Regions from separate parts of the Homo sapiens genome. Here region 1 is linked to region 2. The links come from fine-mapping of genetic effects on gene expression. A gene starts in region 2. The other region holds a variant in brackets. All regions are shown on one strand. Distances are from middle to middle.

Evidence for each region.
Region 1: its variant is fine-mapped to the expression of GALM in whole blood (INTERVAL, PIP above 0.99).

The regions. Positions count from the first base shown.
Region 1 is chr2:38,693,475-38,709,877 of GRCh38, reverse strand. The region is part of intron 4 of GALM (galactose mutarotase); the gene reads right to left. It overlaps LOC124905993 (a long non-coding RNA gene), which reads left to right. Exons shown (of 3, transcript XR_007086292.1): 2 at 12,508-12,641. Among named protein-coding and RNA genes, the nearest start is that of GALM, 36 kb to the right of the region's middle. RefSeq lists a silencer at 1-64. The variant A/G (reference allele first, on the strand shown) is at 8,039.
Region 2 is chr2:38,661,062-38,674,722 of GRCh38, reverse strand. It overlaps GALM (galactose mutarotase), which reads right to left and starts at 8,609. Exons shown (of 7, transcript NM_138801.3): 1 at 8,372-8,609. The coding sequence starts at 8,561. RefSeq lists enhancers at 7,832-8,344, 8,345-8,857.

The sequences.
Region 1 (16,403 bases), 34 kb before region 2:
GGGCACAGGTACTCATCTGACACCTCATTAAGCCATCTTCGTAAATCATCTCTAGAATGCCTGTTGTTATTTTAGGAAACAACATAAAGAGGATGATAATTAAAAGTAACACCCTGGGTGGGAATTTTTACTTCCTTCCAGTGGTTGGCAAGTAAAGCACCTTGGGAATTTTTTGGTAAGGTAACATTTCTATACATTTTTCACAGATCACACAACATCAAAGCTTGTCTATGCTGCAGGTTTTTTTCCCTTTCCTCTGCTGGTGCTTTGGGTTTGCGGCTTTATTCTGTTGCTGGCTTTTTGTCTTATGTTTTTTTTTTTTTTCCTTTCCACCGAGCATTTTCTGATTTTACCTTGACTTGCAACGGGGGAGGGTATTGCTTCTGGATGTTAGATGACATCCGAAGCATAAAATGCTAAACCAAGCTGCAGGTCGTTTTCAGGTGAAAAGGCAATTTTACGCTTCATGGTTGGGACCACGTAAGGCATTTTCATGGTGGGGTATTTTTCATCTTAGATCCATCAGGATGACATCCAGGGATTTGCTGTCTAGTAGAAAGTTCACCTTTCAGTTACCCACTGTCTGTCTGCAGCCTCCTAGTCCTGCTGCTCTCCTGCACAGGCACAAGGGCATTCCTGCTAGACCTGCTCCCCTCCTGGGACTGCCAGGCCCCTGATGTTGCCATATTCCCCTGGTTTTCAGGGCCCCTTGCCACGCGTCTTCCCTGTCCCCCACAACCCTCACTGCCTACCTGTCTAGGCCCACTGTCTAGGACCTGAGACCCTTAGTAACACTCCTTGATCTGCCTTACACCCTGTCCTCCTGCTCCTCCTCTCTGATAAAACCCCAACTTCAGGTCATCCCACCATTTGCCTTCTCTGCTCCTGACTCCGCCCTGCCGAGAGAGCTGGAGAAAGCCCACAGAAGCACCGGCAGAGGCCACCACAGATTCACGGTCTCAAGCCTTCCCTGGATTCCTCTGCTCTCTGACAACCATTTTACTTGTCCTAAATCAGCTCCTCTCCTTCAAAAAACAAACAAACAAACAAAAAAAACTGTTATTTGACCCCACTTCCCTGCCTCACAGAGGAGCCTTCTCTTTGTCACAGCTTGTTGACAGCACTTTCTTTTTTTTTTTTTTTTTTCTTGAGACAGAGTCTCGCTCTATCACCCAGGCTGGAGTGCAATGGCATGATCTTGCTCACTGCCAGCTCCGCCTACCCGGGTTCATGCCATTCTTCCTGAGTAGCTGGGACTACAGGCGCCCGCCACCATACCTGGCTAATTTTTCATATTTTTAGTAGAGGTGGGGTTTCACCATGTTAGCTGGGATGGTCTCGCTCTCCTGACCTCATGATCCGCCCGCCTCGGCCTCCCAAAGTGCTGGGATTACAGGCTTGAGCCACTGTGCCCAGGCGACAGCACTTTCAATACCAGTCCTTTCTGTTAACTCACTGAGGTAGCTTCTAGGATGCTGGGACAGATTCCATGGCCCTGTGCTAAAGCAAATGAATCAGAATCTCTGAGGTGGGGCCCAGGATTCTTTTTTATTTATTTTTATTATTTTTATTTTTTTAGAGACAGGGTCTTGCTCTGTCACCCAGCTGGAGTGCAGTGGCGTGATCACAGCTCACTGTAGCCCCTAGCTCTCTGGGCTCAAGAGATACTCTTGCCTCGGTCTCCCAAGCAACTGGTACTACAGGTGCAAGCCACCATGCCAGGCTTTTTTATTTTATTTTATTTTATTTTATTTTATTTTATTTTAATTTTGATACAGTTTCTCACTCTGTTGCCCATGCTGGAGTGCAATGGCATGACCTCGGCTCACTGCAACCTCCGTCTCCCAGCTTCAGGTGATTCTCCTGCCTTAGCCTACCGAGCAGCTTGGATTACAGGTGTGTGCTACCACGCCTCGCTAATTTTTTATTTTTAGTAGAGACAGGGTTTCACCATTTTGGCCAGGCTGGTCTTGAACTCCTGACCTCAAGTGATCCACCCACCTCGGCCTCCCAGAGTGCTGGGATTATAGGCATGAGCCAGCACACCCGGCTGCTAATTTTTATATTTTTTTTGTAGAGATGGGGTCTTGCTGTGTCCTGAACTCCTGGCCTCAAGTGATCCTTCCGACTCAGCTACCCAAAGGACTGGGATTATAGGCGTGAGGCACTGTGCCTGGCAGGGTTCTGTATTCAAGAAAGCTGCCTAGTTGGGAACCAGTTATTGGCCTATATTCCTGAATCTTTCCTCACTTTTTGTCACTTCTCAAACGGTTACAGTCTGGCTTCTGCCCTGACCACTCTGTTACATTCTTAAACGGGGTCAGGACAACAACCACCACAGCCATGCAGGTTCCCAGGTCTCCTGCCACTTGACTCCCTGGAGTATTGACACTGTTGGTCACTCCAAGACTTCTAGACACCTCTTCTCCTTCTTTGCCTTCTACCCCTGGCCATCTCCCTTGGCACTTTAAGGTAGACCCTTTTTGGACCTTAAATATTGGTGGTTGTTTCCTAGAGTTTCCCAGGGTTTGGTCCTCAGACCACTGCTCTCCTCAGTCTATGATTCCTCTCTGGTAAATCCACGTGGCTTAATCTACAAAGTACACGCTGATGTATGCCTCCAGCTGTCATTTCTCTAACGTCACACTCATGCATCCAGCTGCTGGAAGTGTAAGGTCAGGTGTACAGGGGAGATGTACACCCCACAGGCACCCTAACCTCAAATATTTCAAGATCAAATCCATAGTTCTCCCAGCCCCCCATGCCAGCTCCCCCTCCTCCCCTACTCACAACTCACTGAACATCCCCATCTCTACTGCCCAGCAGCTGCTCTAGAGTCCCGGGGTCATCACACAGCCTTCCTGCTTCCTCATCTATGCATTCAATTCAGGCCTCCTGAGTTTTACCTCCTAAATATGATTAAACTGCCTTCTTCCACCTGACCCTTAATTTGGGTCTCATCTCTTGCTTGGACTATTAAAATAGCGACCCCCCCGCCCCCCTTTTTTTTTTAAAGAGATGGAGTCTCACTATGTTGCCGAGACTGGATTTGAACTCCTAGATTCAAGTGTTCCTCCTGCCTCTGCCTCCTGAGTAGCTGGGACTACAGGTACACACCATTGTGCCCAGCTCCAACAACAGCATCTAAACTGGTCTCTGTCTCCAGTCAAGTCCCACCAGAACAGTTGCTGGGGTGATATTTCTTTGTTTCTGAAACAGAATCTCCCTCTGTCACCCAGGCTGGATCACAATTCACTGCAAACTCCACCTCCCTGGCTCAAGGAATCCTTGAGCCTCAGCCTCCCGAGTAGCTGAGACTACAGGTGTGGGCCACCGCACCTGGCTAATTTTTTTTTTTTTTTTTTTGTAGAGATGGGGTCTCGATATGTTGCCCAGGCTGGTCTCGAACTCCTGGGCTCAAGCAATCCACCTGCCTCGACCTCCCAAAGTGCTGGGATTACAGGTGTGAGCCACCACGCCCAACCTGGGGTGAGATTTCTAAAATGCCAATCTTGACAGGTCAGTTCCCAGCTTAGAATGCTTGAAAGCCCTCCATGATCTAAAGTTAAAATTCCAGCTGGGTGTGGTGGCTCACGCCTGTAATCCCAGCACTTTGGGAGGCAGAGGTGGGTGGATCACGAGGTCAGGAGTTCAAGACCAGCCTGGCCAACATCGTGAAACCTCGTCTCTCCTAAAAATACAAAAATTAGCTGGGCAGGGTGGCGGGCACGTGTAATCCCAGCTACTTGGGAGGTAAAGCAGGAGAATCGCTTGAACCTGGGAGGCGGAGGTTGCAGTGAGCCAAAATCGTGTCACTGCACTCCAGCTTGGGCAACAGAGTGAGACTTTGTCTCAAAAAAAAATCAGCCTGATGTGGTGGTGCACGCCTGTAATCCCTGCTACTCGGGAGGCTGAGGTGGGAGAATAGCTTGAACCCAGAGCGGGAAGTTGGACCACTGAACCCGGAGGGGGAGGTTGCGCCACTGCACTCCAGCCTGGGCGACAGCACAAGACTCCGTCAAAAATAAAAAATAAAAAAAATCCCAGCTCATCGGCATGGCCCAGAAAGACAATCATGACTGTACCCAACTGTAGGGCTGGGCAAATGAGGTGCCTAGGGTGCAAAATTTAAGAAGACACACACTCTCAGGTGCTGACCCTGCACATGCACGACCCTGGGAGTGGATGCTGCCTTAAATTTTGCACCCTAGCCCTTGCTCTGCCCAACTGTCTCTTTGGCTTATTGGCTTAACAGTCATCACCACTCCTGCATTCTGTGCTTTGGTACTCTCACTCTCCTTGTGGCTAGATCCTCACAGACACTGAGAGGCTTCTCACAGCTCAGGACAATCTTGAGAATCCTCTTTCTACCCTGGCTTCTACACTCCTTCAGTCCCACAGGCATTATCTCTACAACTGCTCTGACCACATTAGGTTCTCCCCATCCCTCTGAGCTTCTCAAGGGCAGAGACAGTGTTCCATCCTCTTTATCTCTCAGGCAGCATGTAGCAATCAGTAGGTGCTCTATAAATGTTAGCTGAACTGAATACAAATCTGCTCTGGGAACTTACTTGAGTTAACATCAGGTCCGTTGCCCAAGGCCCACAGTCCCACTAAGCCCCTTCAGAATGTAGTGACCACTAAGGATGGCTATGCACCAGGAATGAACTAGAGGCAGCCCTTGTCCAGACCTGGGCTGGAGGAAGGGTAGATGTGAACCATCAACTCTCCAAGGGTGGTGGTCAGAGCTCTAGCAAATAATTCCCCTTCTGACAAATTCACTGACTGTTAGCCTGCAATTTTCACAGGAATTACACATCGCCTGGCCAAGTGCTAAATTTTGAGCTTTCTTCCTGCCAGATTTCTACCATGCTGGTTCATGTTTGCCAATCTTGTAACAGTAATGTGTTTTCCAGTAGGGAGCATGAGTAGCTTCAGGAGTTATTCTAGAGGCTCATAAAAATGATCTTGTGACCATTTTACAGGAAGGATTCAGTAATGTGCCGTCTTAAAGAATACCACTGCTACCAAGAGAGGTCCTTGGAGTTTTTGCATTAAACCTTGAATACTATCTAGCAGGGACCTATCATACAATAAACAGCTCTAGGGTAAACACATTTCATAGGGTCCAATGTCATGAGTTTAACTTTTTTACTGTTGTCCAAGTACTTTCTTATCTGTAGCCTTACTTTTTTTTTTTTTAATGGAGACAGAGTCTTGCCGTGTCACCAAAGCTAAGTGCAGTGCCCAATCATAGCTCAATTTGCCTTGAACCCCTGGGTTCAAGCAATCCTCTGCCTCAGCCTCATAAGTAGCTGGGACTACAGGTGAATGCCACTGGGCCTGGCTAATTTTTTGATTCTATTTTTTTGTAGTAAAAATGGGGTCTCTCTGTATTTCTCAGGTTCTTGAACTCCTGGACCCAATCAATCCTCCCGCCTTAGCCTCTCAAAGTTCTGGGATTAAAGGCATGAACCACTGTGCCCAGCCTCAAAAAAAATATTTTTTAAATTAGCTGAGCATGATGGGGGCATGCCTGTGATCCTAGCTATGCAGGAGGCTGAGGTGGGATGACCGCGTGAGCCCAGGAGGCCAAGGCTGCAGTGAGCTATAATTGCACCACTGCACTCCAGCCTGGATAACAGAGTGAGACCCTGTCTCTAAAAAAAAAAATAATAAAATAATAAAAAGAGAATACATAGTAGGGCAACCATAGACTATCATTACTTTGAAAGAGGAAAAAAGATAAGAAAACCCCCTTTGTGGGCCAAGGTGATGCAGCAAGTTCACAAAGGATTTTACATAGAATTTATTTTATTTTATTTTATTTTATTTATTTATTTATTTATTCATTTATTTTTTGAGACAGCGTTTCTCCCTGTCTCCCAGGTTGGAGCACAGTGGCACGATCTTGGCTTACTGCAACCTCTGCCTCCTGGGTTCAAAGCAATTCTTGTGCCTCAGCCTCCTGAGTAGCCGGGACTATAGGCACATGCCACCACACCCAGCTGATTGTTTTTGTATTTTCACAGAGAGGGGGTTTCAACATGTTGCCCAGGCTGGTCTCGAACTCCTGATCTCAGGCAATCTGCCCACCTCAGCCTCCCAAAGTGCTGGGATTACAAGCGTGAGCCACCACGCCCAGCCTTGGATTTTATATAGAATTTAAAGAGCTCATGATCCCCTTGAAGTTCTTTCATCATCTTCCCAGACATACAAGAACCCTAGTTAAGAATATCTGGGTTAGAGATTCTGTGCGGTCTTTGAATCAGGGTGTAAGAAATGGACAGGACCTCAGAGTTCAATGAATATAATCCTCATCAAGTCAGATTTTACAGATTCAGTCAATGAGGCCCAGAGAATTTTCATGGCTGACTCATAGCATAGCTAGTGGATGGCAGAACGGAGACCTATATCTTGGTTTTCTGAATCCCAGTTCTCACACAGTGTTGGGCTAATATACCGTGTTTAAGGCTGGGTGCGGTGGCTCACGCTTGTAATCCCAGCATTTTGAGAGGCCAAGGTGGGTGGATCACCTGAGGTCGGGAATTAGAGACCAGCCTGACCAACATGAAGAAACCTGTCTCTACTAAAAATACAAAATTAGCCAGGCATGGTGGTGCATACCTGTAATCCCACCTACTTGGGAGGCTGAGGCAGGAGAATCGCTTGAACCTGGGAGGCAGAGGTTGCGGTGAGCTGAGATCGCACCATTGCAATCCAGCCTGGGCAACAAGAGCAAAACTCTGTCTCAAAAAAAAAAAAAAAAAAAAAAAAAAAAAAAATATATATATATATATATATATATATATATATATATATAAAATCCCACATATCATCCCACCTCAGCCTCCCAGCCTCCTGAGTAGCTAGGATCACAGGCACACCCCACCATGCCCAGCTAATTAAAAAAAAAATTACACATATTATATATATATATATATAAAAAGTATATATATATAAATAAAGTGTATATATATATATAGTGTTTAAAACAAATGTAAAGGAGAGAGGAGTGTGGAGAGACTGGCTGGGGGCAAAATAAGCAATAGTTAATTCCTAGGATGTATAGGTTGGCTATTACTCAGCTTCATTTTTGTGTTCAGTATAGATTAGTTTTCTAGCTTCAACCCGAAGAGACCAAGCCTGAAGCTCCCTTCTAGCTCCCTACTTTGGATCTGTGACTAAATCCTGATGGATTATCTGAGCAAGCTCTGTGGAGAGGCAGATAGCAGAGACTGGCCACATCATGAATTCTAAATGGCTGATGTCATTACAAAAACCATAAGCAAGAAAGAATCTACAGTTTCCAGAAAGTGGGGGGAAAAGTTTCTAAGGAGAAAGTATGACTCTTGAAGAAGGAGGGTAAGGGTCATGTAGCAAAGAAGAGGTTATTGGGTGGTCTCTGTAGGCTGGGGGTGGGAAAGGGATGCACAGCAGGGTGGGGTGTGAGGGAGGCATGCTCGGAGATCATTTTTGTTTTTGTTTTTTGACCAGTGAAATGTTCAATTTTTTTTTTAAGTTTTAAAATTTTTAAATTTTTATTTTTTTGATCAGTGAAATGAGAGATGGTTTTGGGGAGGCCTGAGAGCCGTCTAAGAGGTTTATTAACCTGGAGATTATCAAAGTAAGATTTGCATTTTAGATAGATGCTTTTACATGGAAGATAGATCTTAAGATTTTTTTTTTTCCAGTTAGGTGTTAGAGTGCAGTTGTCCAGATTATGAATCATTCATTCATTGATCCCACTTTATGAAGCCCATAATATAAGCCAGGCACTAATCTAGACAAGAAAAGATAGTCTAAAGCAGCACAGTGAAAATGGAGATGGAGTTATATAACCAACAATACATACTGAGGAGACAGATTTGAGAAATGCTTAGGAGTTAAAAATCAGTAGGACCTGATGACTAATTAAGGCAGTGGGGAGTGAAATGGAAAGAGTAAGGATACTGACAGATGCTTGAAACAAATATGTCCAATATTTTAGAATTATATAATAAATTTAAAGGAATTTTCTGTCAGGAGCTCCAGAAAG[A/G]TTAACACCCAAATGCTAATACATAAAGATCAAAACAGCCTTCGTTTGCAACATCTTTGAATGAGGAGACTACTTTGGACTTTGCTATTTCTCCAAGGCAGAGATAGAGACCTGCCCCAGGGAGGTAATTATATCATCTGCCGAATTGTAGGTTTAACCGACAGAGGTTGAAATAAAATACAAAAGTCTTGCTGGGCCTCTCTCCACAGCCTCATGGCAAGCGTTTCCTACCAGAATTCTAATTTTGTCAAAATGGGGTTGCTTTGATGTAATTTTAGAATAAGCTTTTAAAAACTGAGAGCAGCAAGAACAGCAAGTGAACACAGATGGGCTGGGGGACAGAGTGAATTGGGTAAATTTTATAAGAATAAAAAAGAAGAGGGGATTTTACTAATGCTACTTTCAAAGGCAAAAGACCTAGTCAAAGCACTCATTTTTGCTTTCTTAATTCCTTATCTACTACTACAAATAAAGAGCAGCAAAATTATAAGGAAAAAAAAAACTGTGTGCTGTAAATGCCTTTAAAGACACATCCTTAGTAGTGCACTGTATTGTATACATCATAATGTCTTGCTGGGCAGGCTGCCCAGCTCACCTCCTAATTCTACAGTTCTGTGAGGTGAAAGGTGAAATGTAATATTTACAATCCTGAGAATGAATTAATCCCTGGCAAAATAGAAGGATTTGATTTTCTCATCTGCTCACATCTAGCTGGTGTAATACTTAAGCAGGGTACCAGGGATCTGTTTCTACTTGTTGCCACAGGGCAGGGAACTAGAATCAGGTCCTGAAGCTAAATGCCTGACATGTCTCAGACAAATAAAAACTGACAGAATTCATCACCACTAGACCAGCCTTATAAGAAATGCTCAAGGGAGTCCCACATCTGGAAGTGAAATGATAATTACTATCAAGAAAACACAAAAAAGTAGAAAACTCACTGGTAGAGCACATACACAAAGGAGAAAGAGAAAAGAATCAAATTTTACCACTACAGAAAACCACCAATCACAAGGATGAACAATAAGAGGGGAAGAAAGGAACAAAGGATATATTTAAAAAAACAGAAAATAATTAACAAAATGACAGAAGTCCTCACCTATCAATAATAATCTTGAATGTAAACTTATTAAACTTCCCCCCTTAAAATATATAGACTGGCTGAATGGATTAAAAAACATGGCCCAACTACGGTTGCCTACAAGAAACTCACTTCATCTGTAACGACACACATAGACTGAAAGGGTGGAAAAAGATATTCCATGCAAACAGAAACCAAAAGCAAGCAGGGTAGCTGTACTTGTATCAGATGAAACAGACGTCAAGTAAAAAACGATTAAAAAAAAGAAAAAGGTTATTATATAATGATAAAGGGATCAATTCAGTAAGAGGAGGTAACAATTCTAAATATATATGCACCCAACACTGGAGCGCCCAGATACATAATATAAAGCAAATATTATTAGATCTAAAGGGAGACATAGACACCAATACAATAGCTGGGGAATTCAACACCCCATTCTCTGCACTGAACAGATCATCTAGACAGAAAATCAACAACAAAACACTAGATTTAAACTGCACTTTAGGCTGAGCGCGGTGGTTCACATCTGTTATCCTAGTACGTTGGGAGGCTGAGGTGGGCGGATCACTTGAGGCCAGGAGTTTAAAACCAGCCTGGTCAACATGGTAAAACCCTGTCTCTACTAAAAATACAAAAATTAGCTGGGTGTGGTGGCGGGCACCTGTAATCCCAGCTACTTGGCAGGCTGAGGCACGAGAATTGCTTGAACCTGGGAAGTGGAGGTTGCAGTGAGTCAAGATCATGCTACTGCACTCCCAGCCTGGGCAACAGAGTGAGACTCTCTCAAAAAAACAAAAAACCCTGCATTTTAGACTAACAAAGAGACATTTACAGAACATTTCATCCAACAGATTCAGAAAACACATTATTTCATCAGCACAAGAAACATTTTCCAGAATAGACCATATGTTAGCCCACAAAACAAGTCTCAACAAATTTAAAATAATTGAAATTATATCGAGTATCTTTCCTGACCACAGTGGAATAAAACTAGAACTCAACAGCGAGGTGAACTTTTGAAATTGTACAAATACACAGAAATTAAACAATATGCTCCTGAATGATCAGTGAAGAAAATTTTAAATATTCTTCTCTTTTCTTTTTTAAGATGGTTCTTGCTATGTTGTCCAGGCTGGTCTTGAACTCCTGACCTCAGGTGATCAGTCCACCTCGGCCTCCCAAAGTGCTGGGTTTACAGGCATGAGCCACCGCACACAGCCTAAAGGTTGTTTAATGTTAATAAAAGTACAGCTAGATAGGGGGAATAAGTGCTAGTGCTCTAAAGCACTATAGGGTGACTATAATTAACAACAACTTATTGTATATTTTCAAATAGCTAGAACAGCAGATTTTGAATGTCCCAACACAAAAAAATGATAAATGTTTGAGGTGATGGATATGCTAATTACCCTGATTTGATCCTTATACATTGTAAACATGTATCAAAATATCCCAGTGTACCCTGTAAATATGTATTAGGTATCAATAAAATATGTATTAGATATCAAGTATTAGGTATCAATTAAAAATAATAACAGCTGGGGCCAGGTACGGTGGCTCATGCCTGTAACCCCAGCACTTTGAGAGGCCGAGGTGGGCAGATCACCTAAAGTTAGGAGTTCGAAACCAGCCTGGCCAACATGGTGAAACCCCGTCTCTACTAAAAATACAAAAATTAGCTGGGCATGGTGGTGGGCGTTTGTAATCCCAGCTACTCGGGAGGCTGAGGCAGGAGAATTGCTTGAACCCAGGAGGCGGAGGTTGCAGTGAGCCGAGGATGTGCCATTGCACGCCAGCCTAGGCAACAAGAGCAAAACTCTGTCTCAAAATAATAATAATAATAACAGCTGGACACAGTGGCTCATGCCTGTAATCCCAGCACTTTAGGAGGCCGAGGTGGGAGGATCACTTGAGAGCTCAGGAGTTCAAGATCAGCCTGGGCAACATAGTGAGACCCCATCTCAAAAACAAACAATATATAAACAAATGTCTGACAAAGCAGCACAGGGATCTGGCACTGCAGTGTTCTCTGTCTCTGGACATCCATTATCTACACCCCTGTCCTTTCTGGGAAACAGCTTCAGGGAGTTCTACTTCTGGGAAATTACAGGGACAGCCCTGACAACAATAAACATAGAAAACACATGCCAGAGGGACTCATATGCCCAACAACAGAGTGTGCTCCCATCCTATGGAGCAGCAAATGCTTTATGGGTGTCATTTTTTTCCTTTTTTTTTTTTTAAGTAGCTAAGAATAATTGCTCTGAAGACGCAGAGCTAAATTAACTGCTAACATCCAAACACAGCCTGACAGTGTACCTGCAAACTTTGCTCCTGGTCCATGGGTAAAAGGAGCTCTCAGCCTTGCAGAAACCTTCTGTTGGTGCCACCTGCCATGGGACAGGAAAGAAGCACCTGTGAGCAAGGGCTATGCACTCAATACACCACTGCTGACTCCTAAGTGCCGGAATTTCATCTACAGAGGTAGCTTTAGAAGTTAGGTGATGAATTCTATTCATTTATTTAAAATATATATATAATCCCAGCACTTTGAAAGGCTGAGGTGAGCAGATCACTTGAGGTCAGGAGTTTGAGACCAGCCTGGGCAATATGGTGAAACCCCATCTCTACTAAAAATACAAAAATTAGCTGGCCGTGGTGGTGCGCACCTGTAGTCCCAGCTAATTGGGAGGCTGAAGCAAGAGGATCATTTGAACCCGGAAGGCGGAGGCTGCAGTGGGCCGAGACTGCACCACTGTACTTCCAGCCTGGTGATGGAGTGAGACTCTGTCTAAAAAAAAAAAACCCCAAAACCCAAAATTGCCAACAGGAAGAAGGCAGGAGCAAAACAGGTGCTCATGGCTGCCAAAGATTTGTGGGTCCTGCCTGGGGTAGAGGTCTAAATGCCGGCTCTGCATTGAAGACGTAAGGGAATTTCTTTGTCTTGCTCTTGCTCTGGCTCCCTGTAACTGCATACCATGGTATCTCTTTTCTTTCTAGGTGATAATGCCCCATCCATAAGTGGGTTACTAACAAAATGGAGGACAGGACGTCACTCCTCCCCAAACACCTACAGGGGGAAGGTCCCCTTTTACTGAGCACTGTGGCCACAATTTTAACAGTTACTGCAAAATAAAAGTTGCTACATTCTCATGATGATGTGTTTTCCCATCACCTGAAAAATTATTTACCGAGTGTCTGTAGCCAGGGTGAAAAACACCCCTAAAGTTTAGATATGCATCAGTATTTCCCTCAAGAATAGCACACGTTAAAACTTTTATAAAGAGAAAACAAAAATAAGGAGTTGAAAAACATATAAGTATAAATTAATAGCCACAAAAGGGAGAAGTTAAAGAGAGACTATGAAAACATCTTTGTCTTGCAGAAAGATACAATCTGAGAAGCAACCCTGCAGGACTTGGCTGAAAGTCAACAGGCGGCTGATCAAATGAAGCAATAGAAGCTGTGTAATTTGTCACATCAAGCACCTGCGACAAACCCACGCACAATCCGAGGAATGTAGGTGATCTGACAAAAGGCCTTATGTTTAAAATTTACCCTAAGTTTCCCTAAATCCATCACAAATTTCCCCACATAAGCCACTTTTTCAGACACAGTTTAACTATCTTTTCTTGTGACACTAGGTGCATTTGAAGAGTTCTTGGGGGCCGGGTGCAGTGGCTCATGCCCATAATCCCAGCACTTTGGGAGGCCACAGCAGGTGGATCACTTGAGGTCAGGAGTTCGAGACCATCCTGGCCAACATGGTGAAACCCCCTCTCTACTAAAAATACAAAAATTAGCCGGGCGTGGTGGCATGTGCCTGTAATTCTAGTTACTCGGGAGGCTGAGGCGGGAGGATTGCTTGAACATGGGAGGCAGAGGTTACAGTGAGCTGAGATCGCGCCACTGCACTCCAGCCTGGTTGACAGAGCAAGACTCTGTCTCAAAAAAAAAAAAAAAAAAAAAAAAAAGCTTTCTTGGGGGTAGGTGCGGTGGCTCACGCCTGTAATCCTAGCACTTTGGGATGCTAAAGTGGAAGGATGGCTTGAGGCAGGGAGTTTGAGACCAGCCTGGGCAACATAGTGAGACATCATCTCTGCCAAAAAAGAAAAAAAAATCCATGTTGAGACATTTTCGTGTAAAAAAAGAAAAAATTACCTGGGTATGGTGATGTGCACCTGTAATCCTAGCTATTTGGAAGGCGGAGCCAGGAGGATTGCTTGAGCCCCAGAAGTTTGATGTTACAGTGAGCTATGATTGTGTCACTGTTTCAGCTTGGGCAACAGAAAGAGACCCTGTCTCAAAAAAAAAAAAAAAAAGAAAAGAAAAAGAAAAGCTGGACACAGTGGCTCATGCCTGTGATCCCAGCACTTTGGGAGGCTAAGGCAGGTGGATCACCTGAGGTCAGGAGTTCAAGACCAGCCTGACCAACATGGTGAAACCCCATCTCTACTAAAAATACAAAATTAGCCAGGTGTGGTGGCACATGCCTGTAATCCCAGCTACTTGGGAGGCCAAGGCAGGAGAATCGCTTGAACCCGGGAGGTGGAGGTTGCAGTGAGCTGAGATCACGCCATTGCACTCCAGCCTGGGCAACAAGAGCGAAACTCTGTCTCAAAAGAAAAAAAAAAATCTCTACACTTTTTTTACTGTTATAGTGACAATAATAGAGGCTTTTCTCTCCAGGAGCTCTAAGTGAAATTAATGAGAAATCTCATGACCCTAAGAAGAGAGATTTAAAAAACAAACACGCAGGCGGGGTGTGGTGGCTCACACCTGTAATCCCAGCACTTCGGGAGGCTAAGGCGGGTGGATCACTTGAGGTCAGGAGTTCAAGATCAGCCTGGTCAACATGGTGAAACCCCATTTCTACTAAAAATACAAAAATTATCCGGGTATGGTGGCATGCGCGCCTGTAGTCCCAGCTACTCAGGAGGCAGAGGCAGGAGAAGCACTTGAACCCGGGAGGTGGAGGTTGCTGCAGAGAGCTGAGATCGAGCCACTGCACTCCAGCCTGGGCAACAGAGTGAGACTCCGTCTCAAAAAACAAACAAGCAAACAAACAAGCAAACAAACAAAACCACACACACATAAACAAGGATTTGGGGTGGAAAGCAGAGGACTAGGATGGTAAGCAAAATAACTGATTTACGCAGTAAAAGTCATTCATATGCAAAAAGGCCAAAGCTGTTTTAGAGAAGTTTTCTACTGTTGATTTCTGAGGGTTTCAGCACAACCAAGCAGCCACCCCAGGAAAAGCCAGGTAGAGCAAAGGGTCTAAAACGAACTCATTATCCAGCATCTCCCCAGGATAAATGAAGTACCCACCATAAGGGACTGCTCCAGATAGCTGAACGCCACCCTGTAAATGGTACAGCTTTTCTTTAACTGTGTCTGTAAGTTTGCTTTCTTTTTTTGAAACTTTATTTATTTATTTATTTAATTTATTTATTTTGAGACTGGGCTGTGAGATTGGCTAATTTTTGTATTTTTGGTAGAGATGGGGTTTCACTGTGTTGCCAAGGCTGGTCTCAAAGTCTTGGGCTCAAAAATCCAACCGCCTCCACCTCCTGAAGTGCTGGGATTACAAGCATGAGACACTGCACCCGGCCTGTTTGTAAATTTTCTACCGAAGGTGATTTTTCTATCATTTTCAACAGAGATGACCAACATACATACTTAAAGAATGTGAACTTTCAACACAACTTGTTCATAACAAGATTCTGCATATGAGAAAACCAAGAACCAGAAAGACAAGGGATCTGTCAGGAACACCATATGCTGCAACAGAACAATGACACCTGAGGTGACTTTCCCTTGACTTTCCCTTTCTTTTTTTGTTTTTTTTTTTTTTTTGAGACGGAGTCTTGCTCTGTTGCCCAGGCTGGAGTGTAGTGGCCCGATCTTGGCTCACTGCAACCTCCACCTCCCGGGTTCACGCCATTCTCCTGCCTCAGCCTGCCGAGTAGCTGGGACTATAGGCGCCTGCCACCACGCCTGGCTAATTTTTTTGTATTTTTAGTAGAGACGGGGTTTTACCATGTTAGCCATGATGGTCTCGATCTCCTGACCTCGTGATCCATCCGCCTCGGCCTCCCAGAGTGCTGGGATTACAGGCTTGAGCCACTGCGCCCAGCCTGACTTTCCCTTTCTTGTCAGACTGACAAGGCCAGACACTTAAATTCATGCTCTTTAATTTCAAGAAAACCTCTCCCTCCTTCCCTTTTTCCTTTCCTTCCTTCCTCTTTCTCTCTCTCCCTTTCTTATATTTAATTTAAACAAACTTGGTTTCCTGTTTTCTTTGCAGAAAAGTAGAAATAAATTGAAGGGAGGAAGGAACAAGGAGGAGACAGTGAGAGGACTGGGGAGGCTCCCTGTACAAAAGGTGGCAAAAGAGCTGAGGATTGACAGCTGGCAAAAGTCTGTTCTTTGTTTTGGCTTACTTCTCATTTATTGACTATATGTTGCACTTGGGTATTTATATAGTAAAGAAATTAATTTACTTTTCTTTTCTTTCTTTCCTCACTCCTTTCTGCCTCTCCCCTACCTCCCAAATCTTCTTCTTTTTTTTTGAGACAGGGTCTTGCTCTTCACCCACATTGAAGTGCAGTGGCACAATCACAGCTCACTGCAGCCTTGACCTCCTGGGCTCAAGCAATTGTCTTACCTCAGCCTCCCAAATAGCTGGGACCACAGGCATGCACCAACACTCCTGGCTAATTCAAAAAAATGTTTTGTATTAACAGGGTCTCCCTATGTTGCCCAGGCTGCTCTTGAACTCCTGGGCTCAACCAATCTTTGGTCTCCCAAAGTGCTGGGATTAAAGGTGTGAGCCACTGTGCCTGGCACCAAACCTTCTTGACATCTAACCACATTGTAAGATCTGTAGAGTGCAGGTCTACTTAAGAGCCTGAGTTCTAATACCAGACTACCTTGGTGTGAATCCCGGCTTTCCCCAACTTGTTAACTGGGTCATCCTCTGTAAGGTACTTTAACTCCTTGTTCTATAGTTTTCACATCTGTTAAATAAGAAAAATGAACAGAACCTACCTTACAGGCTTGTGGTATGAATTATTTATAAAGTCCTCCCTGAAATACTAGCTATTATTATCATAAAGCTTCACCTTATCTCACAGATAATCAGTATCTTCTTTTTCTCAATTCAACAAAACCACAGTCGGTAGATAGTGCATATTTATTTTGAGAAGTCTTAATGGAGTATGGCTGGTCTAACAGGTTATTTTCTCTCTCTCTTTTTTTTTTTTTTTTGGAAGCAGA
Region 2 (13,661 bases):
TGAGGGGAAGCGATCTTATTCTTTCTCTTCTTATTTTTTTAAATCACATAATTAGTACATTAAAATATCCTTTAGAGAGAGTTAGGTAATACACAAGGATATAGAGTAGGTTTGCCAGAGGAAATATAGAATGCTTGGTTAAATGTGAGTTTCAAATAAACAACAAATAATTGCTTAGTATAAGTTTGTTCATGTTATTATTATACATGGGACATACTTATACTTTAAAAGTTGTGTCCAGGCGCGGTGGCTCACGCCTGTAATCCCAGCACTTTGGCAGGCTGAGAAGGGTGGATCACGAGGTCAAGAGATTGAGACCATCCTGGCCAACACGGTGAAACCCCGTCTCCACTAAAAATACAAAAATTAGCTGGGTGTCGTGGCCTGTGCCTGTAGTCCCAGCTACTTGGGAGGCTGAGGCAGGAGAATCGCTTGAACCCAGGAGGCAGAGGTTGCAGTGAGCCAAGATCATGCCATTGCACTCCAGCCTGGCGACAGAGCGAGACTGTCTCAAAAAAAAAAAAAAAAAAAGTATAAGCTGTTTATTTGAAATCCACATTTAACCAGGCATCCTGTACTTTTATTTGTGAAGTCTAGCAACCTAAACAAGGACTAAAACACAAAAGCCTTCCTTCACCTCTCCACTCCCCTCCTTTCCAATGGTAACCACTATTAACAGTCTGGCACGTACACTTCATTTAAAAATTTGAATTAACTACATATTAGCAAATATATAAATACACAAACACACATATTCCATATAAAGAGAATCATACTACATAGAGTATCACACTATAATCGTACATTGTTCTGCAACTTTTCATTTATCAAATATCTTCAGATTGCTCCATGTCATGACATATCTACCATATTCCTTTTTATTTTTTTTTGAGTTCCCTTTTTTTTTTTTTTTGAGACGGAGTCTCGCTCTGTCGCCCAGGCTGGAGTACAGTGGCACGATCTCAACTCACTGTAAGCTCCGCCTCCCAGGTTCACGCCATTCTCCTGCCTCAGCCTCCCGAGTAGCTGGGACTACAGGCACCCGCCACCATGCCCGGCTTATTTTTTGTATTTTTAGTAGAGACGGGGTTTCACCGTGTTAGCCAGGATGGTCTCGATCTCCTGACCTTGTAATCCACCCGCCCCGGCCCCATATTACTTTTGATGGCTACATGGTATAATAATCAGCATAAACTGTTTGGGGCCTTTTTAGGGGAGGGGCTGTAAAAAGCAAAGTAGCGTCCTCATACTTACAACTTTGGGCGTGGGCATATTATGGTACTTTTCTTCTCTTTAAATTCCTCTGTGCTTACTTTACGATGGAAAAGATTAAGGTCTGGAGATTGTTTTCTGTATTATTACCAAGATTACTTTCCACTCTAGTTTTCACTTAGATGTCCTCTGAATTCCATTCCCTTTTCCCGTGGTACTCTGTATCTGTCATGTCTACTTCAGATCAGCAGAGAATGCAATTCAAGCATATGAACTATTTTTTCAAGGGATGGAGAGGCTCTCAGGATACAGACCCTGAGCTGATTAGGCCAGTTACAGGTCACAGGTTTCCATTACCCAACTGGTTGGGTACAAATTAAACATTAATCCTTCTCTTCCAGGCCTTTCCTGGTTTGCTTCTTTGCTAATCTGCAGGTGCATCAGAGTGTTGCCCATTGACTATCATAATAGCTAACACTTACTGAGTGTTGTGTTTTTTTTGAGACGGAGTTTTGCTCTTATAGCCTGGGCTGGAGTGCAGTGTGCGGTCTTGGCTCACTGCAACGTCCGCCTCCTGGATTCAAGCAGTTCTCCTGCCTCAGCCTTCCAAGTAGCTGGGATTACAGGTGCCCGCCACCAAGCCCAGCTAAATTTTTTTTTTTTTTTAATAGAGATGGGTTTTCACCATGTTGGCCAGGCTGGTCTCAAACTCCTGACCTCAGGTGATCCACCTGCCTTGGCCTCCCAAAGTGTGTCCCAGCCACTTTCTAAGTGCTCTACATTTACTTCATTTCATACTCAGAACGTTTCTATGATGTAGACACTATTACTATCCCAATTTACAGATGTGGAAACTGAGGACAGAAAAGTTAAATAACTTGCCCCAAAACACACAGCTAAGTAGTGGCAGAACCAAGACTTGAATCCAGACAGTCTAGCTCATGAGTCCATGTTCTTCAGTATCAAATTATGTGAAAAGCGCAGGCTTTCTGGTTATTAACCTTACCTCCATCCCTAGGCACAGGCCAGGCTGATCTCTCTCTCTCCTATTCCCACCTCTCCCCACCTTCTTCTCTTTCTGAAAATAGCTTTAAAAGCCCATACACTGGTTAACCAAAAGGAGTCCCAAAGAGCCAAACAATCTTTCCTTGGTTTTGTTTCATCCGCTTTTCAGAAGCTCAAAAATTATAGAAAAGCAGAATTTTTTTTCTAAAAAACAAGATGTTTGACTGTAGAGATTTTTGAGTCCTACTTTGATTCATTCAACAAGTGAACACTGAGCTCCCGCTCTCTGCCAGAGGCACACTGGGTGTTGGAGACAACCACAAAGCCAACAGCAGGGCTCCTACCACATGGGCTTGCAAGAATTCCCTTACAAGTGACCACTACCCAAAACCAATCACGTCATGAAGATAAGAAGCACTTGCCAGGCCAGTTCCTTGGTTTGGAGGAATAGGGTTTTTTTGTTGTTTTTTTTTTTCCCCATAATTATCAGGGTTTTTTTTGTTTTTGTTTTTGTTTTTTTGAGACAGGGTCTTTCTCTGTCACCTAGGCTGGAGTGCAGTGGTGCCATCACGGCTCATTGCAGCCTTGACCTCCAGGCTCAGGTCCCCACCTCAGCCTCCCAAATAGCTGGGACTACAGGCATGCGCCACCACACCTGGATACTTTTTGTATTTTTTCTAGAGACAGAGTGTCCCTGTGTTGCCCAGGCTGGTCTTGAACTCCTGAGCTCAAGTGATCCTCCCACCTAGGCTTCTCAAAGTGCTGGGATTACAGGTGAGAGCCACTGTGCCCCTGGAGGAATAGTTTTTAAGAATTTAAGCACAGCAGAAATCCTGTCTCTGAAAAACCCTTTAGAACAAATAAATTTTATACTACCTTCAAATGTTACTGATACGCTTTGGCTTTGTGCTCCCACCCAAATCTCATCTCGAATTGTAATCCCACCTGGTGGAGGTAATTGGATCAGGGGGGCGGTTCCCCCATGCTGTTCTTGTGATAGTCAGTGAGTTCTCACGAGAGCTGATGATTTAAAAGTGGCAATTTCCCCTCCTTTCTGTCTCTCTCCTACTGCCGTGTAAGATCTGTCTAGCTTCCTCCTCGCCTCCTGCCATGATTGTAAGTTTCCTGAGGCCTCCCCATCCATGAGGAACTGTGAGTCAACTAAACCTATTTTCTTTATAAATTACCCAGTCTCAGGCAGTTCTTCTATAGCAGTGGACTAATAGTTACTAAGCTTTCACATCAAATCGGAATTACAAAAGTGACAATCCCCAAATCCCGAATAAGGCATGGCTAAAAATTTGTTTTGAAATGCAGAAAATACTATTTTTCATGAAAATGTTCAAAGTTCCTAGGTCAAGCCATGAATATTGATTTAACCAAGTCAATTGCTGAGCTTAGAGTAGAGGAAACGCTTCCCCCTTTCCTGGGCAAGGCACTGGCGAGAATAAATTAATAAATGCTTAATCATGGGATATGGCCCTTTCCACTCCTCTAACAACCCAAGGACCACACTGTGACACCCAATTTGGACAGCCCAAAATTAGCCAGAGTGCACTAAAGTCTGAAATAAAATTACTCACCACTCTCAATCAAAACCCCCATTCACAGAATGACTTATCCTTTGGTTATATGAAGAAAACAATTTAATTAATAAGCACTTTAGTAATCTCAGATAATTTATATACTTTTTAGTGGCTGCTTGCTGTCCTAGTTGAATCTCCATGCCATTTTTTGCAGTGTTAATTAAGTGAAATAAAAAGTTCTAGTAGAGTCAGAGATGGTATTTGGGGGCAAAGGAAAGAAAGGGGATAAAAATGATTAGTTGCTCCCTCTGATCAGAGACGTATCAAATATGTGGTCAGATATGGTTAGACACATATCACAGCCCATGGCTCATTAAATCATCACAATCCATTTGTTTCACGTGAGAAAATAGGTCTGGAGAGTTTAAGTAAATTGCCCGGGGTCGCACAGCTTTAAGGAAGGAAGCAGAACTTTAAACCAGGAATTTTCAATGCTCCCACCAGGGTGCTCCTGGGCGTGAGCGACAATAAACTGCAGCCTCTAACCTGATCCTTTTTTTTCCTCATCCCTGCTTCTGAACCCAGGTTTTCTAAAGGCACTAAATTTACTTTTTCTATTTTTTCCTTAATGCCTCTCATGGCAGTTAATAGCCAGGTCTTTGGTGGCAACTGGGGGAAACATGAAAAGGAAGGCGTTTCAATGATTGTATGGGTAGGTTGTTTATACCTGTGGCTTATAAGCAAATATTTTCAGCACAGGCTTTGAAAGAAATCATAATGACTGTAGGTGGGACATGCCGATGAAAAATATTTTTAGGCTGGGCGTGGTGGCTCACACCTGTAATCCCAGCACTTTAGGAGGCTGAGGTAGGTGGATCACTTGAGGTCAGGAGTTTGAGACCAGCCCTGACCAATATGGTGAAACCCCGTCTCTACTAAAAATACAAAAATTAGCCGGGTGTGGTGGTGCCCACCTGTAATTCCAGCTACTTGGGAGGTTAAGGCATGAGAATCGCTTGAACCCAGGAGGTGGAGGCTGCAGTGAGCCGAGATAGCGCCACTGCACTAAAAAAAAAAAAAAAAAGAAAAACTTTTTTTTTCTTCTTTTGAGATGAAGTCTTGCTTTGTCACCAGGCTGGAGTGCAGTAGCACAATCTCGGCTCACTGCAACCTCCACCACCCAGGTTTAAGTGATTCTCCTGCCTCAGCCTCCTGAATAGCTGGGATTACAGGCATGCGCCACCATGCCCAGCTAATTTTTGTATTTTTAGTAGAGATGGGTTTCACCATGTCGGCCAGGATGGTCACTGTCTCTTGACCTTGTGATCCACCCACCCAGAGTGCTGGGATTACAGGCGTGAGCCACCGTGCCCGGCAAAAAACATTTTTAAATACAAAAAAAGGTTGAAAAACTCATAGGAGGCATTACTGATTTTTCTAGGCTGTTGTAGCAGGACGAGCCGCAGACAAAACTCCTTAGACACCGGATTGAAGAAGGCAGACTTGCGTCTCAAAAGCCGAGCTCACCGCGTGAGCAATTCCCGTCCCTTTTAAGGGCTTACGACTCTAAGGGGGTCTGCGTGAGAGGGTCGTGATCGATTGAGCAAGCCAGGGGTACCTGACTGGGGGCTGCATGCACCGGTAATCAGAACAGAACACAACAGGACAGGGATTTTCACACTGCTTTTCTATAAAATGTCTGGAATCTATAGATAACATAACTGGTTAGGTCAGGGGTCGATCTTTAACTACCAGGCCCATGGCGTAGTGCCGGGCTGTCTGCCTGTGGATTTCGTTTCTGCCTTTTAGTTTTTACTTCTTTCTTTGGAGGCAGAAATTGGGCATAAGGCAATATGAGGGGTGGTCTCCTCTCTTACTGTAACTAAAAATTTATATAATTTTCTTCTTTAGAATTCTATGAAAGAAAAAAATCCCATTTTCCCAGGGAGAAACTGAACCATTCTGACCTCTGGTTATGGCTGTCATCCAAACAGTTTATATAACCTGTCTGGGAAATTGAAGATTGTTCATATCTAACTCTGCAGTTACAAAAGGACCATGTCTCATGGAATTATCCACGCTCAGATCTTCCGCATGGCTCAAAACCATTTTTGGGATATGGTAATGTCAAGATAACCCCTTATTCTGTCAAGTATTTAAAAAAATTTTTTTTAAATTTAAATTTATTTATTTATTTATTTATTTTTATTTATTTTAGAGACAGGGTCTCACTATGTTGCTCAGGCTGGTCTCAAACTCCTGGCCTCAAGCGATCCTCCCACTTTGGACTCCTAGGATTACAGGTGTGAGCCACCATGCCGGCCTCTGTCAAGTCTTATTACTTTAAATTATTTACCTCTGTTTGTTTATATATACTTACATACTCTGATGGTTTAAAAGAATATGCAGTGAAAATTAAGTCTCCTTCCCATCCTCTGCACCCTGGGCACCCAGGATCCTTTCTTAACAACCACTGTTACCAGTTTATTGTTAACATAGGTTTTAATGCACTAGAAATGTAGTATCAGAGCACCATCAAAATAGTAACAGAGTGTTGTATATCTCCCCTGTAAGAGTCACAGCCCACACCTCTACAACAAACACAGGGTAACAAGAGAAAAGCAAAACAGCTGGGCACAGTGGCTCATGTCTGTAATCCCAGCACTTTGGGAGGCTGAAGTGGGAGGATTGCTTGAGGCCAGTAGTTCGAGGCTGCAAGTCAGCTATAATTGCACTACTCCACTCTAGCCTGGGTGACAGAGCGAGACTCCACCTCTAAAAAATAAAAAATACATAAAAAAGCCAAACAAATTTATTTGATTATAGTTTTATGTGACACGGGAGCTTTCAGAATGAAGACCGACAGATACAAGGAAAACAATCCATTTCTATGCTTAGGTCCAATGGAACATGGACAGCCATGTAGAAATATGATTGGACCAAAAGGGTAAGATCTGTTGCTAATAGAGTGAGTGGGGAAACTCGGCAAGGCCTGTGTTCAGATTTTTCTTGGCCTCCCCATGCAGCATTTCTTCCTCCGGGTATGGGGCAGGACCCCTCTGGAATGAGGGTCTTAATTTCTTTATGGTCAGCTGTTACACAGAAAGGCAGAGGGAAAGGTTAGAGTATATTTTTATTTTTTTGAGATGGGGTCTCACTCTGTCGCCCAGGCTGGAGTGCAGTGGCGCAATCTCGGCTCACTGCAACTTCCGCCTCCCAGATTCAAGTGATTCTCCTGCCTCAGCCTCCCAAGTAGCTGGGATTACAGGTGCCCGCCAGCAGCCTGGCCAACATGGTGAAACCCCATCTCTACCAAAAACACAAAAAAATTAGCCGGGCATGGTGGTGTTCAACAGAAAGCTGAGTTTTGTTTTTTTCCCTGAGGAATTGAAATTTGCTCTCTGTTTTTTAAGATAGAGTTTCGCTCTGCCACCCACGCTGGAGTGCAGTGGCGCAATCTTGGCTCACTGCAACCTCCGCCTCCTGGGTTCAAGCTATTCTCCTGCCTCAGCCTCCTGACTAGCTGGGATTACAGGCACGTGCCACCATGCTCAGCTAATTTTTTTGTATTTTTAGTAGAGACAGGGTTTCACCATGCTGGCCAGGCTGGTCTGGCCAACATGTAACCATGAGCCAAGTTACATATCTTACGTATCGGAAGAACCAAACAGACAGAATGACACACCAAAAGGAAAACCTCAAACCTCCTCTCCAGCAGAATTTGTCTACGCCCCAACCACTGAGCAGAGAGTATTAACTCTCAGTTTCCCTTTGCCAGCTTTATTTCACACCTCATTTTCTGTCTAGTTACACCATGGTGCTAAGAGAGCATGATGTACATTTTCCTTTGCTGCAATCAAGCTGCAATTGTCATTCTTTATTTATGCAATTACTGAGTTAAAGTCTATCTCCCCAGCCAAACCGCAAGAGTGGGGACCTTGTCTGTCCTGTTTAATGAGGTCATCGGATTAATAGAGTTGTCAAATGTATTAATTAATGCCTGATCCTAATTGCCCATGGATTCTGGGATAAAAGTCCATCCTAGTTGGTAGGAGACCTGATCTCTGAGAAGACACTGAGTTGGTCTTCTCTATTTTGTTCCTAAATGGTTATTGGGTAGCTGGTGTACTAGGCAACCACTGAGCTTAGTGGAGCATTTCTGAGACAACCAGGCCTCAAAGAGAATCTGATCAAGGAAGAAGGAAGTAGAAGAGGCAAGTATTTGAATTTCCTTCTTCAGAAGGGAAGAAGTGGGAGCCACACCCCCTCTTGCCTGCTCTTTCCTCTCCAGCCTTCTCCAGGTATCAGGCAGTTCAAAGATTAGGCAGTTCAAAGATCGCTCCAGGATCGCTGAAGTGTATCATACCATCAGCTGACCTTTTACGTTAACTGGGGCAAAGCCTGAACGGATAACCAGAGGCCAACTGCCATAGTTTATTTATTACAGTTTTTCCCAAATGCTGGATGGCCACACGGCCCTCTATGATGCATGCGCTTGCAAGTCAGACGGTCCCAAGCTAGGCGACTTTCCCCCTTGGTCCCTCGCATTGCAAGTGGCCCGCTAGATCCGGGAGGTATGTAGCGTGGGCCTGGGGCCTGCTCGCAGCCCAGGGCACAGTTCAACCCACCTTCCAACTCGGCGAAGCCAAGCACCACGTCCGAGGCTCTCCCCTGCCTGTCTTTGACCTCTAGGGCTGTGATCGTGCAGCCCCAGGAGATGATGTCCACTCTCAAGAGGTCTGACTGCAGCTGGAACTTCTCCACTGTCCCTCCTCCCGAGGGCAGCTCTCCAAACACGGCCCTGGTCACCGAAGCCATAGGGAAAGTTTGGCGTGTGCAGCCACTGCCCGCTCTTCAAACTCCAGCGCTCGCTAAGCTAGAGGCGACCCAAGTTTACAGGAGAAGGGGCGTGACTCGGCTCAGACTCCTCCCTTTCCCTGCCTGGATTTAGGGAGTGACCGTTCCTGCAAAAAATAGCCCCTGGGGCCTTTCTAAATCAATCATTTGCCTGAGGGTAACAAGAGGGGCAAACTTTGCAGCCACACTTGTACTTTTTTTCCTTGGCTCGTCCTGGTTGCATTGCATGTTGGGAATGGTAGTTTTTGGGAGGTGAAATTGCATTTTGGGGCTTGTAGTCTTTCTAAACTCGAATCCTGGGTTGACGGGGTTCTACCCCCATCTCCCCACACCTCAACATGTAATGAGCTGGTCATTAATGTCGGTGGCTATCAGACGAAGAATGGGAAAATACAGATAGCAGACTTACAGTGAGACCGATCTTGGGAAAAAATTAGATTTTAACTCTTTGATACAGGGGGTAAGAAGTACAGCAGTAGTTGGCCGGCTCGGTGGCTCACGCCTGTAATCCCAGCACTTTGGGAGACCGAGGCAGGCGGATCACGAGGTCAGGAGATTGAGACCTTCCTGGCTAACACGGTGAAACCCCGCCTCTACTAAAAATACAAAAAAAAAAAAAAAAAAAAAAAAAAAAAAAAATTAGCTGGGAGTGGTGGTGGGGGCCTGTAGTCCCAGCTACTCGGGAGGCTGAGGCAGGAGAATGGCGTGAACCCGTGAGGCGGAGCTTGCAGTGAGCCGAGATCACGCCACTGCACTCCAGCCTGAGTGACAGAGCGAGACTCCGTCTCAAAACAACAACAACAACAACAACAAAGTACAGTAGTAGCTTAGAAATGAGGTAAATCATCTCAGGCTTCTCTGCACACAGACTTACTGAAGATTCACTCTTTTTGTCCCACGGATGAAGTCCTGGACATGGTTCTGTTAGAGCCACTGCCCAGAAGGCTCTCCTGACGGCCAAAGCTGTGCCAGCCTCGAGGAGCTTGGACCAGACAGGGTCAGGTAGATGGATTAGGCCCTCGGTGTGCGGAGGTGATTAGAGACAGCCTCAGACTTATTTTACTTCAAGGGACTGGAAAGGGACCTCTGGTGTCTTCTGGCTCCTGAAGTCCACAGTTCCTTTAAGAAGGGATTCAGGGAACAAGTATTGATTGAGGTCCTTGTAAATGCCAGGTACTGAACCTTTGTTATCTCCTTTTCTACAAGTAGGATGGAGTCTTCAGGTATGTACAGTTGGAGAGGAAAGACACTAAGGTTATTAAATAATTGTCTTGCTTGATTGTGTCTCAGAATTTGCTGAGGACATTTAAAATGCATATTCCCAGTCCCCACCTCTGGAATTTCTAATTCTGGAAGTCTAGGGTGAAACTCAGGAATCTGCATTTTTCATGTTCCCAAGTTATTCTTCTGCAGATTATCTGGGACCAGATTTAGAGAAATATTGCTCTAAGGCTTGATGAGTAATCTGAATTTTTTTCCCCAAAAAAATAGGCTCTGATGGCAGAAGGATTAAGATAAAGCTATTAAGGGCCTTAATGAGATAACATACAGGCACCTATGTACTTCCTTGCTAAGTCTGGCAACTTTAGAGGAGTACTGAGCCTAGGAAGTGGGAGGATGCTGGGAGCCTAAAGACAAGTTTTACTCAAGCCATCTGCATAATCATCTATCTTTTCTTGATACTGCTCTTGGCTTGGTTCCTGGGTACTTCAGAGGGTATCCAACTAGACTGGGGTGAGTGCAGAAATGAAATGCATCTTTGATTAGGAAATTATGAGAATTGGGATTATGTGCCTGGAATCAGATGCTAATAAAACATAATAACTATCTCTCAGCTTCTTCTGTCTGTAATTTAAGGTATATTTAGCATTCTTGCCATAAAGCCTCAATTCTCCATCATGAAGCAGAAGAATTCTGATAGCAAAGGAAAAATAAAAAAGCTTGCAACAGGCTTCAGTGAAGCTCAACGTATAATAATAAAAAGACCCAAACAAGTCAAATTATAGACTGCATCACACTCATACAATAACCGACAGGCACTCCTATGTGCTGCTTCATCAGAAATTCTCATAAACTCTCAGTTTCATCAGCCACTTAACTTTGTGGTGATTCACACGCAAGCCCTTTGGCAATGCTGTGTTAGCAAGGATGTCTTAGAAAAGTGAGCAGGAAGACCACTTTTTTTTTTCTCAACCTCCAGTTCTCAGTGTTCTGCCAAGCACATGCTGTTACAGAAGGAAATAAATGTATTTGCCTGCCCAATGCTAAATGTCTCTACGGAAGCTCTTTTTACTCCATTTGGTAGAAAATGAATGTACCATGATGTCTCCCTAAAATGTAAAGAGGCCTGGGCGCGGTGGCTCATGCCTGTAATCCCAGCACTTTGGGAGGCAGAAGCGGGTGGATCACCTGAGGTCAGGAGTTCGAGACCAGCTTGATCAATATGGTGAAACGCCATCTCTACTAAAAATAAAAATAAAAAAAAACTAGCCAGGCATGGTGGTATGTGCCTGTAGTCCCAGCTACTCTGGAGGCTGAGACAGGAGAGTTGCTTGAACCAGGGAGGCGGAAGTTGCAGTGAGCTGACGTTGCACCACTGCCTCCAGCCTGGGTGACAGAGTGAGACTCTGTCTCAAAAAAAAAAATGTAAGGAGTACACTTCTTGATTTCATTTTCCTTTGAAGGGTTTAACTAACATATTGTCGCAAATAGCATTACCTTGTGCTTGAATCAACTGTCAGGCACAAACCTTGATTTTTCTCACCCTAATATCCTATTTTTATCCCACAGTGAAACTCTAAAGGAATATCTGTGCACTTAAAAACAAACAAACAAAACCCCTAAATCTAGGGGCAATTCTCCATCTGCAGGGAAGTCAGATGCAAGGTAGTAATCTAGAAAATGAAGCACTGTCAAATTTCAGGAGGTATTTATTTTTATTTTGGGGTAAGGGCCTGAGGATGAGATTATAAGGTAAAGGGAAAAGGGATTATGGCATTTATGTAAAAGGAAAATTACTGGCCAGGCGCGGTGGCTCATGCCTGTAATCCCAGCACTTTGGGAGGCCGAGGCAGGCGGATCACAAGGTCAGAAGATTGAGACCATCTTGGCTAACATGGTGAAACCCCGTCTCTACTAAAAATACAAAAAATTAGCTGGGCATGGTGGCGGGCACCTGTAGTCCCAGCTACTCGGGAGGCTGAGGCAGGAGAATGGTGTGAACCTGGGAGGCGGAGCTTCCAGTGAGCCAAGATCACACCACTGCATTCCAGCCTGGGCAACAGAGAGAGACTCTGTCTCAAAAAAAAAAAAGGAGAATTACTTGAAGTAGATAGCATTTCCTCTAACTAGAAGGGGAGGTGTCAGGGTGGCCAGGTGAAGAATAAGGTCTGGTTTTTTTGTGTGTTTTTTGTTTGTTTGTTTTTTGAGAGGGAGTCTCACTCTGTTGCCCAGGCTGGAGTGCAGTGGCGTGATCTCGGCCCACTGCAACCTCCGCCTCCCGGGTTCAAGCAATTCTCTTGTCTCAGCCTCCTGGGTAGCTGGGACTAACAGGTGCATGCCACCATGCCCTGCTAATTTTTGTATTTTTAGTAGAGACAGGGTTTCACCATATTGGTCAGGCTGGTCTCGAACTCCTGACCTCAGGTAATCCACCCACCTCGGCCTCCCAAAGTGTTGGGATTACAGGCGTGAGCCATTGTGCCCAGCCAAGGTCTGTCTCTTATCAGATAGAGGTAAGTCCCCAAAACTGAGTGCTTGGGAAGCCAGGCGTGAGGAAATCTGAGCTCTTGGAGGCTGCCACCACCTCCTCATTCAACATAGAAATGGCAAGGTGTGTTGTTCCTGGGAGGGGTCAGACCCTGCTTTCATAAAATCACTCTAGGCCGGACGCAGTGGCTCATGCCTGTAATCCCAGCACTTTGGGAGGCCAAGGCAGGAGGATCACTTGAGCCCAGGAGTTTGAGACCAGCCTGGGCAACATAGCGAGACCTCATCTCTGCTAAAAGTAAAAAAAATTAGGCTGGGCACGGTGGCTCATGCCTGTAAGCCCAGCACTTTGGGAGGCTGATGCGGGCGGATCGTGAAGTCAGGAGTTCGAGACCAGCCTGACCAACATGGTAAAACCCTGTCTCTACTAAAAATACAAAAATTAGCCGGGCATGGTGGCAGTCACCTGTAATCCCAGCTACTCGGGAGGCTGAGGCAGGAGAATCGCTTGAACCTAGGAGGCGGAGGTTGCAGTGAGTGGAGATCGCGCCATTGTACTCCAGCCTGGGCAACAAGAATGAAACTCCGTCTCAAAAAAAAATTAGCTGGGTTTAGTAGTGGGCTTCTCTGGTCCCAACTACTTGGGAGGCTGAGGCTGGAGAACTGCTTGAGCCTGGGAGGTTGAAGTTGTAGTGAGCCATGATCACACCACTGCACTCCAGCTGAGGTGACAGAGCAAGACCCTGTTTCAAAAAATAAAATAAAAATAAAAACAACACAAAGTTTTAAGCTATTGACAAGCTGCTATGCAGAGAAAATTCTCTGAGTTATAATAACAAAACTGAGTCACAGTTTGTCTATAAAAAGACCTGGAAAAGATTCTCTCCAGTCACGTTGGTCCATTACCACACTCCTGTTCTCTTTGTCAGTTCTCTGAACTCCAACATTGTTTATTGTCAGTTCTTCTTAATGGGCACTCAGTAGCCACTGTCTCAAATCATTCCTTATGTTTCCATGAGTATATTTTTGTTATTGTTGCTTACTCAACTATCGGCTTCCTGACTCAATAGTTTGACTTACGTATATATAGATATATATTTTTTTGAGAGTCTCACTCTGTGCCCTGGCTGGAGTGCAGTGGCATGATCTTGGTTCACTGCAACCTCCACCTCCCAGGTTCAAGTGATTCTCCTGCCTCAGCCACTCAAGTAGCTGGGACTACAGGCATGTGCCACCATGCCCAGCTAATTTTTGTATTTTTAGTAGAGATGGGGTTTCACCATGTTGGCCAGGCCGGTCTCGTACTCCTGACCTGAGGTGATCCACCCACCTTGGCCTCCCAAAGTGCTGGAA